Homo sapiens: one gene and its partners. The protein of the gene in region 3 purifies or fractionates together with the protein of the main gene of each other region. This does not show direct contact. Each region holds a gene or a part of one and is shown on either strand. Other genes may lie near its edges.

Evidence for each region.
Region 1: the proteins of PPP1R16B (region 3) and PPP1R7 purify together in Homo sapiens (co-immunoprecipitation; 3 studies listed by BioGRID and IntAct, with this or other methods). This does not show direct contact.
Region 2: the proteins of PPP1R16B (region 3) and GRK2 purify together in Homo sapiens (affinity purification with mass spectrometry; 2 studies listed by BioGRID and IntAct, with this or other methods). This does not show direct contact.

What each region holds. Positions count from the first base shown.
Region 1 is NC_000002.12:241,153,428-241,157,077, reverse strand, and holds part of PPP1R7 (protein phosphatase 1 regulatory subunit 7), read right to left. Parts: intron 3,603-3,650; coding exon 3,474-3,602; intron 2,061-3,473; exon of another isoform or gene 1,814-2,060; intron 1-1,813. UniProt on the Homo sapiens protein: Regulatory subunit of protein phosphatase 1.
Region 2 is NC_000011.10:67,279,869-67,283,518, forward strand, and holds part of GRK2 (beta-adrenergic receptor kinase 1), read left to right. Parts: coding exon 1-32; intron 33-863; coding exon 864-915; intron 916-1,224; coding exon 1,225-1,316; intron 1,317-1,590; coding exon 1,591-1,690; intron 1,691-1,781; coding exon 1,782-1,860; intron 1,861-1,953; coding exon 1,954-2,084; intron 2,085-2,402; coding exon 2,403-2,497; intron 2,498-2,566; coding exon 2,567-2,674; intron 2,675-2,883; coding exon 2,884-2,950; intron 2,951-3,259; coding exon 3,260-3,360; intron 3,361-3,650. UniProt on the Homo sapiens protein: Specifically phosphorylates the agonist-occupied form of the beta-adrenergic and closely related receptors, probably inducing a desensitization of them. Key regulator of LPAR1 signaling.
Region 3 is NC_000020.11:38,920,652-38,923,629, forward strand, and holds the end of PPP1R16B (protein phosphatase 1 regulatory inhibitor subunit 16B isoform 1 precursor), read left to right. Parts: 3' UTR 1-2,373; downstream 2,374-2,978. UniProt on the Homo sapiens protein: Regulator of protein phosphatase 1 (PP1) that acts as a positive regulator of pulmonary endothelial cell (EC) barrier function. Involved in the regulation of the PI3K/AKT signaling pathway, angiogenesis and endothelial cell proliferation.

The DNA of each region.
Region 1 (3,650 bases), on a different chromosome or scaffold from region 3:
TGCTGAGGCGACAGCTTCCCTGTTAAGCACTTCCTCATTTCATTTCATTGGAACCTACTTCAGCATGTGTGCTGAAAAGGACTAAGACACACACAGATGCACACACACACGCATGCACAAAGACACACAGGCACGTATGCACACTACACAGACACACGCATGCACAACAGTGGTATACACAGACTCATGCAGACACACAAACACGCACACTCACCCCTCAAAACACTTAAAAAAATTAACAGTAATTCCTCAATATCACCAAAGATTGTCAGTGTTCGTATTTCCTCAACTGTCTTAACATTTCTTTCCTTAGTTTACTTGCATTATGATCCAAATAAGGCTGTATATTGTGACTAGATGGTATTTCTCTTTTAAAAAACTTTTTTAAATTAATTTTTTTTTAAGAGACAGGGTCTCACTCTGCTGTTCAGGCTGGAGTATAGTGGTGTGATCATAGCTCACTGCAGCCTTGAACTTGTGGGCTCAAGCAATCCTTGTCTTAGGCTCCCAGGAAGCTGAGACTACGGGTGTGTGCTACCATGCCTGGCTAATTTTTTAAAACCATGTTTTGTACAATCAGGGTCTCGCTATGTTGCCCAGGCTGGTCTGGAACTCCTAGCCTCAAGTGATCCTCCCACCTTGGCCTCCCAAAGTGCCAGGATTATAGGCACGAGCCACTGCACCCAGCCCAGCATTTTTCTTAAATTTCTTTTTTCCCCTTGCAGTTTTCTGTTGTAGGAAAACAAGCTGTTTGTCTTGTAGTGCTTCTCCCAGTCTGGAGTCTGTGAATTATATGCATAGGATGTTCTTTCTCCTGTAAACAGATTGTCATTGTCACTACCTTACAGGGCTGTCAGTGCTGTTACTGTGGCTCTTCCTAGAGCAAACGTGCACTTGCTTCTGCAGGGGAGTGAGCTCACACAGCCCTGGACCCCATGCCAAGGGCTGGCTCCTCCAGCCTGGCTCCTCCTCTCACCTGGAGGCCTCTGAGAGGAGCACCTGACATCAGACCAGCTTAACAAAGTCATGATCCCACATGGTTGCATTCACTTCATTGTTTTCCACTATGCCTTTTCTATAACCATCAACTGTGGTTAGTTAAAAAAAAAAGTTTACTATAGTTTATCCACAACTGTAAAGGATACCAACCTAAGAATTAAATAAAAGGAACTGGGCAAAACCAAGAGATAGATAACAAATCACCTCAAAAGACAGTGTCAAGTCACCGTTCATAAACTCAGGAAGTTGCACTGGAAGAGGTGCTACAATTAAGGCAGGGCGCCCAGGTCATGTAGTCCAAACCAGGACCCTTTGAGAGCAGAAGGGCACAGTTATGCTGGGCCAGCAGGCAGAAACGGGCTGTGCCAGGCTCCTCAGGACACACGGTCGCATGGCTTTAAGGGGTCTTGTTTGTAATACAGCCAGCAGGGCTGGCCGCTCACCACTCAAAATGTCAGCTAACCTCTGAAACAAGGTTTCCAGCCTAGAATGCCCTTCTGAGTGTATTATATATTCATCATATTTTAAAAATAATTTAAGGAAAATAGGTAGAAGGTAACAGTTGACATGATTAAATTTGTTTTAATTGAATTTAAGACTTAAATAAATACAGGTAGGAGCAAGTCTTGGCTCCTCTAAGGGCTAGAAATGCATATTCCCAGAAAATTCATAATCAGCTAATCATCTCGAAGAAAAAACTTGGATTTTTCCAGGCCAGGCCAGCTGGTCTGCCTTGTAGCCGTGTGCCCTTGGACAAGCTGCAGAGAGTCTCATTTTCCTCATCTATAACACATTACCACACTGGTGTACTTACAGAACATGATGACAACATGATTAGCCTGTGCTAGTGAGCCAGGGAAAGAAAGCACACAAGGCTTGCTCTGCCAACTCTCAAGTCCTCCATAAACACCCAATGTCTCAGCAGCACCCATCTGAGGATAGCGGGGGCTCCTACCGCTCCACTGTTGGTGACTAAGTCAGGCGATGACGGAAGCTTCCATCTATCACTCCCATGCACTTTATTCCACCCACATCACTTCCAGAACATCAGCCTCAAAGTTCCAAAGTGAATGTGACTGGTACTTTTGTGGTAATCTCCTTGTGACTTAAAAGTAGGTTGCCATAGTTACCAATCATCTTTGCTGGCACAGAGAGCACAATGTTATTTTAAAAATTAGGTTTGTTTCTTCATAAATTTATTTTCATAAGGGATGCATGATTATTCATACACTGTATACAAATCTAGAAAACACAAAATGTATAGATCCTTCTTAAACCTGCTGTTTGGACAGACTCAGCCCGTTTGATGTGTTTTCTTTCTTTAGCAGGTAAAAGTACATACATGCATGCATACTGTTCAGAAACTTTTTTGTTTTGAGATGGAGTCTCATTCTGACCCCGGCTGGAGTGCAGTGGTGTGATCTCAGCTTACTGCAACCTCTGCCTCCCTGGTTCAAGCGATTCTCCTGCCTCAGCCTCCTGAGTAGCTGGGACTACAGGTGCACACCACCATGCCTGGCTAATTTTTCTTTTTTTCTTTTTTTTGTATTTTTAGTAGAGACAGGGTTTCACCATGTTGGCCAGGCTGGTCTCGAACTCCTGACCTCAAGTGATCCACCCGCCTTGGCCTTCCAAAGTGCTAGGATTACAGGCGTAAGCCATTACGCCCGGCCACATCTAGGCACTTTAGAAGTCAATCCTCAGGCCTATAAAAATGGTAAGGCAAGACTCAGAAATAATTTCTCTCAGAGATTAAAGGTTTCTATTGCTATGGTAGGACATAGAAACACAGCAGTCAGCCATAACATTTATTTCGAATCTCATTTCCTAAACATATGGTTAATATAACAATATTGCGGTTCTTTTCTTTTTCCTTTTTTTTTTTTTTTTTTTTTTTTTGAGAAGGAGTATCCCTCTGTCACCTAGGCTGGAGTGCAGTGGTGTGTTCTCGGCTCACTGCAACCTCCACCTCCTGGGTTCAAGCGGTTCTCCTGCCTCAGCCTCCTGAGTAACTGGGATTACAGGCACACGCTGCCACGCCCAGCTAATTTTTGTATTTTTTGTAGAGACAGGGTTTCACCATGTTGGCCAGGATGGGCTTGATCTCCTGACCTCGTGATCCACCCGCCTTGGCCTTCCAAAGTGCTGGGATTACAGGCATGAGCCACTGCATCTGGCCAACAATGTCATGGTTCTGTCTCAGACGGCATACTAGTACCCATATTTGTGCTAGGATTTGCCTTCAGTGGAATTGGAAAAAACCACATCCTTTTTGCAAACGCCATCAATGAGTCAGCCTGCTGAAGGAGCACCTCAAAGAGCATATCCACCTGCCCTGGGCCACTGAGGACCCCTAAGGAGCACGGCAGTCCTTCTCCAGACCGACACAGCACCCACACCCAGGGCCAGACCACGTGCAGCACAGCCCACATCCCCCAACCAGCAGATGTCCCCAAGGGAGCTGGGCCTGGTACCTTCTGGGTCCTCCTCCCCCCGCTCCTCCCCATCCTTCAGGCTCTGTTCACTGAGGTCGGCCACGATGCCACTGCTGTGTTTCTTCCCTTCTTCATCGCCGGATTCTTCAGACTCGACCCGCCTGTCAACTGAACCCACACATGTCAATGAGAATTCACATCCACTTTATGGGACTT
Region 2 (3,650 bases), on a different chromosome or scaffold from region 3:
CGAGGGGACGTGTTCCAGAAATTCATTGAGAGGTGAGAGCAGGGAAGTGTGGGAGAGGAAGGGGGAGGGAGGGGCCGCTCTCAGAAGGGGTATGGCTGGCGTGGAGGGCAGAAGCCAGCCTTCATTAGGCCCTGAGCAGGCAGGTGGCTGGCCCGTCAGCGGCCCCCTTGCAAGGACTCCTGAGAAGTCAGACAGGCTGCAGGTCATCTCCCACCCTGCCCTCCTCAGCACCAGGCAGCTCAAAGCCCATCCCAGGCAGTCTCCTAGCTCCAGGGAGCTAGGAGAGCTGTGCCACCTGTGCCTCTTTCTCTCCCGTGGGCTGTATAGCACCTTGCTGGCCCACCTGGACTGAGAAGCATCAGAGTCCTGGTAGGGGTAGGCCCAGTAGAGCGCATGGCCCCCGTGACCCTCACAGCCAGAGTTGGCGCGGTGGGTGGGAATTGTAGGTAGATTTCAGCCAGCTTTAGGGAGCAGCTGTTTTAGGGTCACTGCTGCCCAGCCATGGAGTGAGCTCTGTGTCACTGGGGGTATGCAAGCAGGGACAGGAGACGTACTTGTCAAGGATATGGTAGCAGGAAGTCTGGGTTAGACTGGAAGACCTCCTTTCTGTGCGGATCTGATTCCAGCAGGAAGCCACGGCCAGGTGGCCGAGGGCCATGCTGGGCACCCAAGCAGCCCTGACTGGTGCTGTGGGCGGGCAGGCCCTCAACATATCCTTCCTGGAAGAGGACATTAACGCTCGTGATGTTTCCACACCTACCCTCACGGGACCCCAGGGAGTGGCGGCTGGGTGGGGAGGCTCACGACAGCATCATCCTTCCCACATTCTGAGTGGCCCCTGAGCCCTGATTCTTCTTTTCCAGCGATAAGTTCACACGGTTTTGCCAGTGGAAGAATGTGGAGCTCAACATCCACGTGAGTGGGCTTGGGTGGGGCATGGAAAGCCACGCACCCTGCTGCTCCTCTCCCGGGAGCTGGGCCTGTGGCTTGGCTGGGAGGGGGAGGTCAGGGGATGTCTGTCCTTTAGCCCCCAGGGCCGTGGCTATGGGGGTCAGGGCCGGGATCCCAGCATGGGGAGGCCGGAGCAGGTAAATATGTGGCAAGGATGGCCAGGACATGGGTATGGGGACCCTGGCATGGGGCCAGCCCCTGCTGCCCAGGTGCCTCTGCCCCAGGGCTGGGCAGAGGCAGCCTGTGGTGACCGCAGCTGTCGCTGCCCCTCAGCTGACCATGAATGACTTCAGCGTGCATCGCATCATTGGGCGCGGGGGCTTTGGCGAGGTCTATGGGTGCCGGAAGGCTGACACAGGCAAGATGTGAGCACCCTGCTCGGCGCGGTGGGATACCTCGGGGAGCCGGGCTCCTGGGGGACCCTGACAGGCCGGGTTCCACACAGGGCCACCTGCTGCTCCATGCACTCCTGTCTTGCCGTGCTGTTACCCCCGCAGGCTCCTCTGGCCCCAGCCCTCCCTGTCTCTGATTTGTGTCACACGCTGGTCCTGGGTCTAGTCTTTCCCTCAAGCGCCCCCTGAGGCAGCCCTGGGCCCCTGCTCTGAGGGTGGGTGTTGACTGCCGACCTCTGCCCCGTAGGTACGCCATGAAGTGCCTGGACAAAAAGCGCATCAAGATGAAGCAGGGGGAGACCCTGGCCCTGAACGAGCGCATCATGCTCTCGCTCGTCAGCACTGGGGTGAGCTGGGTGGGCCGGGCTGCCGCTGAGGCTCTGGAACCCCGGGCGCCCCTGCTAACTGCCCGCCCCCTCCCCTCCTCTCCCCTCCTAGGACTGCCCATTCATTGTCTGCATGTCATACGCGTTCCACACGCCAGACAAGCTCAGCTTCATCCTGGACCTCATGAACGGTGAGTGCTGGCCGGGCCCTAGGGTGGGCCGGGCCCAGGCACGGGAGGCTGGGGCAAGACACTGAGTGCTGCCTGTGGGACTGCCTCCCTCAGGTGGGGACCTGCACTACCACCTCTCCCAGCACGGGGTCTTCTCAGAGGCTGACATGCGCTTCTATGCGGCCGAGATCATCCTGGGCCTGGAGCACATGCACAACCGCTTCGTGGTCTACCGGGACCTGAAGGTGAGCGCCCCTGCTGTCCCCAGGCTGGACCTCCGTGGCTGTCCTCTCCTTCCTCTCGACATCCCGGCCACCAGGCCCAGAGGAGTGGGGCTCCTGGGACATGGCCGCCCCGTATCTTCCCATCTCCGCCCCTGCCCTTCCCACCGAGCCACTCTCTGGGTCCAGGTTGTAGCTGGGGACAGGAGAGAGGACCCCCACCTTTGCCCTTTCTTTGGGTACCCATCGTCCTCTCCAGTGAAGCAGTGACCCAGCTGGCATCTTGCCTGGCTGGGCCCCATCCTGAGCTGCCCCAGGCAGCTCACTGGGCTTCCTTCACAGCCAGCCAACATCCTTCTGGACGAGCATGGCCACGTGCGGATCTCGGACCTGGGCCTGGCCTGTGACTTCTCCAAGAAGAAGCCCCATGCCAGCGTGTGAGTGCCCCCCACCCTCTCCCTCCCCACCCCTTGCCACTCCCGCTTATGGCCCCCTTGCTCCCACAGGGGCACCCACGGGTACATGGCTCCGGAGGTCCTGCAGAAGGGCGTGGCCTACGACAGCAGTGCCGACTGGTTCTCTCTGGGGTGCATGCTCTTCAAGTTGCTGCGGGGGTGAGTGGCCCATCCCAGGTGGGCAGGTGGGTTGGGGCTAAGAGAAGTTCCTCCCCAATCCAGGTGGGATGCCAAAGGAGGGGAGCCCATAGCTGCCTTGGTGGTAGGGTTGGCACCGTCCCTGACTTTGGCCACAGCTCATCCATGCTGCCTGCCTCCCTTTCCCCATTCCTGTCCTTTGACATTGGTTTTTGGCCTTTCTTGCCCAGGCACAGCCCCTTCCGGCAGCACAAGACCAAAGACAAGCATGAGATCGACCGCATGACGCTGACGATGGTGGGTGCAGGTCTCAGTGCAGGGCCGCAGGGGGCTGGGGGGAGCTCCTGTGGGTGCCAGGCCATGACTCTTGCTTCCCACCAGCCAGCAGAGATCTGGGCCACTGACCCCTACTCTGGCCTCTGAGACAGACCTCCTGCCCCATAGGCTCTCGCCCTCCCCGTGCTGTTGGAGCATGACTGCTGGGCGAGCTAGGATGCTGTGCCCCATCTGTCCCTCTGCGGGGGCCTGGACCCCTCTCTCCCCTGAGCTGGGATGGGGTCAAGGGCTCTTCCTAAGCCCCTGCTAATGTCCCACTCCTCTCTAAAGGCCGTGGAGCTGCCCGACTCCTTCTCCCCTGAACTACGCTCCCTGCTGGAGGGGTTGCTGCAGAGGGATGTCAACCGGAGATTGGGCTGCCTGGGCCGAGGGTGAGTACCCTGGCGCCTTGGGCATGCTGCTGGCTGTGCCCCCATGAGGACAAGGGCTGTGTCCCGTCACCTGGAACCCCCTCCAAGGTCCCAGCCTCCTTGGAGGAGCTCATAAGTTGGGGCATGGCCAGCCCTGTCCAATGTTCTCAGAGTGGAGGGGCTGCCCTGGGAGTTGGAGCTGCTGGAACCAGCTAGTAACTGGCTTCCAGAGGGGCCCTTGTCACAGATGATGATGATAGCAGCTTTTTATGTTTATCAAACATTTATTAAGCACTGGGCATAGGGTTGCA
Region 3 (2,978 bases):
GGTGGCTGCTGGAAGGGGAGAGGTTCTCAGCATCAGGCCACCTCCACCCCAATGCCAGGATAGATGTATTCTAGAGTAGGGGTGGAGGCGGCCCAGGAGGCTGAAGACAGGTGCACAGATGCTTCCCACGACCTTGCCATTTGGGGTGGGCTCTTCAACATCTCAGGCTGTGGCTGGAACAGGACAGGATGATCTAAAACACACGTACCATTGGCTGTAAAACAGTATGAGCCCAGACTGACGCTGAAATCCCTCATGAGCCAACCTTAGCTACAAGGTAGGGAGTTCTGAGGGAAGCCGCGTGCTCCTCAGGAGAGAGCTGTTTAGGTTTTCCGATCTTTTTGCTCAGGGGCCAAACACTGAAGGCACGTACTGCCCAACCCACTGAGCGCCTGAGGCCATTCCCTCCTTTTCCGCATGCCTCCTGCCTCCTGGGCTATTCCTCTCCACCCAGAAGGCTGGGAATCCCAGCTGATTCCCTGACAGGAGCCGACTTCACACACAGGTGACTCTCAGGCATTGGCTCATGTTTTCAGCCAGGGATAAACCATCCCTTCTTGGGGCTTTAAGTCCCTGGGGAGCTTTCCCTGTAGGTCTCCTGGGTGTTGAGAGACAAGTTGGAGACCAACCTCCAATGAATGAGCCGCGGTCATTCATTAATTCACTCACGTAATTTACTGAGTAGCTGCAACATGCCAGCCTCTACGTTAGGTTCTGCGGATAAAGGAGGAATAAGACAGAGTCAGGAGAACTGTTCCTTGTGGTTTCCGTCCCTTGGGGACCACAGGCATCAGCAGTCCCATTCAAGTCACCTGAGGCAAAGTGTCTGCATCTTCGTCCAGCGACCCTTTGCTTTTCGGCTCCTAGAATCCTTAGAGTCTGAATTCCTTTAGCTGGGAACAGCTGTCATGGTCACCCCTGGATAACATTTGCCACCAAGTATAGATGCTGGATCTTGGGTTCCAGGCAGACATCATCCAGGTCCATCTGGAACTTTCAGTGATAGCTGCCTTCAGCCAGCATCTTTGGGGGACTCTATAATAGCAGCTTGAGATCAGTGTCTAGAAGACTGTTCTGCAATTTGCTGCCAAATGCATCTCAGGTTTTTAAAGTCATTGTTTCTTGCTCATGGTGGCTCATTTATTACATAGTCCCCTCACCCCACTAATGGATAATGGGAGGAAAAGTTGCTGCTTCCTTCAGCATCAAAGCCTTTCCTTGGGAATCTGCCTCCCTCCATGGCAGGGGTGGATTCGGGAGCTGGGAGTAACCAGGCAAAGTCAACCAGATGCCTAGCTCCTGCTGAGACCCAGGTCCTATGGCAGCTCCTCATTAGATTAAAGGAGACCACTTCCAAAGCAGGTGCTGCATGGCTCACCATCATATGCCCCAAACAACTGAAAGTTGGCGGTTATCACCAGACTGTGAGTTTCTGGCAAGTAGCTTGGGGAAGCTGAATAAACTCTAGGCCCAGGGCTACTAAAGACTTCAGGATAGAATTCTCCATCAAATATACAGCATAAGTAAAACTGCTCTGCACTGTTTAATCCATTTCCAAGGGGCTTAGAAAAGCTAACAAGGGTGTGTCCCCTGTCCTGCCCCACCGGTTTGCTGGCTTTGTAATAACATAAGACCATTGTGGTTGTTGGTGTCAGATACCTTCCCATCCTGAGCTCTCTCACCTACCTGCTCTCTCTCCTAGAGCAGGATACTGGGGTACTTTTAAGAAGGGTGCTCCTTTTAAGATGCCCAGAAAAGCTGTATTTAACTCTTGCTATTTGTAACTTGGGGATGGTCTCCCCTGCCCCAGGGCACATAAGAGCAAAGGCTCCAATGGTCAGTGGATGACTCTGCAAAAGTGACCCCCTGTGCCAGAAGCTATAGCCCTCTCCCCAACAGGTCTCTCTTGTTGGCCAGAGGGCCTGCTTCCCATGGGCATTGCAAGTGCCACCGTGCGGGGCCTGGCTCTGCACACCCAGGAAAAGTCTGCAGACCCCCAGCCCTCCGCAATAATTCACCAGACCAGAAGCCACTGGTGTACAGAGAACACTTAAAAAAATGTATTTTATGTGAAAAAAAATTAAAACTCTGTATACTGTATCAGCAGCTTTGTGTAAAAATGGCAATCAAGAGAGTCTAATATATTTAAAACTTTTTTAAAAAAAATCTTCGCAGATCTTTGATATCGTACTGAGGTAACTTCCACGTAGCCCCTTGCCACGCGGCACCGGTGGGCCTTGGGTCCAAAACTGTGGCTCAGCCACATCCCAAAGGGGGCACATGTCCCTGGAGTTGCTTCCAGCTGCCAAGGCCTGTGACAGAATTCGCTGTTAAGAGTTTTTAATTAAAATTATTAAATTCCTTTTAATAACACCTGCTAGTGTGAGTGATTATTGCTGTGAGCTCACTTGAACAGTGCTGACTTGAATTCACAAAGAGGAGGTTCCTGGAATAGAGGGTGGGTGAGAGCTCCTAGTCTCTTCCCCCTTACCCCACCCCTTTCCCACAGAGGGCTTTCCCATGAGACCCCTGAAATAGAGGGAGCTCTGGGGGCTCAGACCTGGAGCAGATGTCTCCCCAGACTAGGAGATGGTGAAAACTGATGAATTCAAGAAAAGGTGGGTGGTTGGGAATGACCTTCATTCTGTCAAATAATCTCTTTGAAATTAACATGAGGCCGTATAGTAGCATATATTTATTCCATACATTTTCAAAGTTTTTCCTGATATTTATTTATTTATTTTTATTTTTTTAAGATGGAGCCTCACTCTTTCACCCAGTCTGGAGTGCAGTGGCGTGATCTCAGCTCACTGCAACCTCTGCCTCCCGGGTTCCAGCAATTCTCCTGCCTCAGCTTCCCAAGTAGCTGAGATTACAGGCGCTCGCCGTGATGTCCAGCTAATTTTTTGTATTTTTAGTGGAGATAGAGTTTCACCATGTTGGCCAGGCTGGTCTCCAACTCCTGACCTCAAGTGATC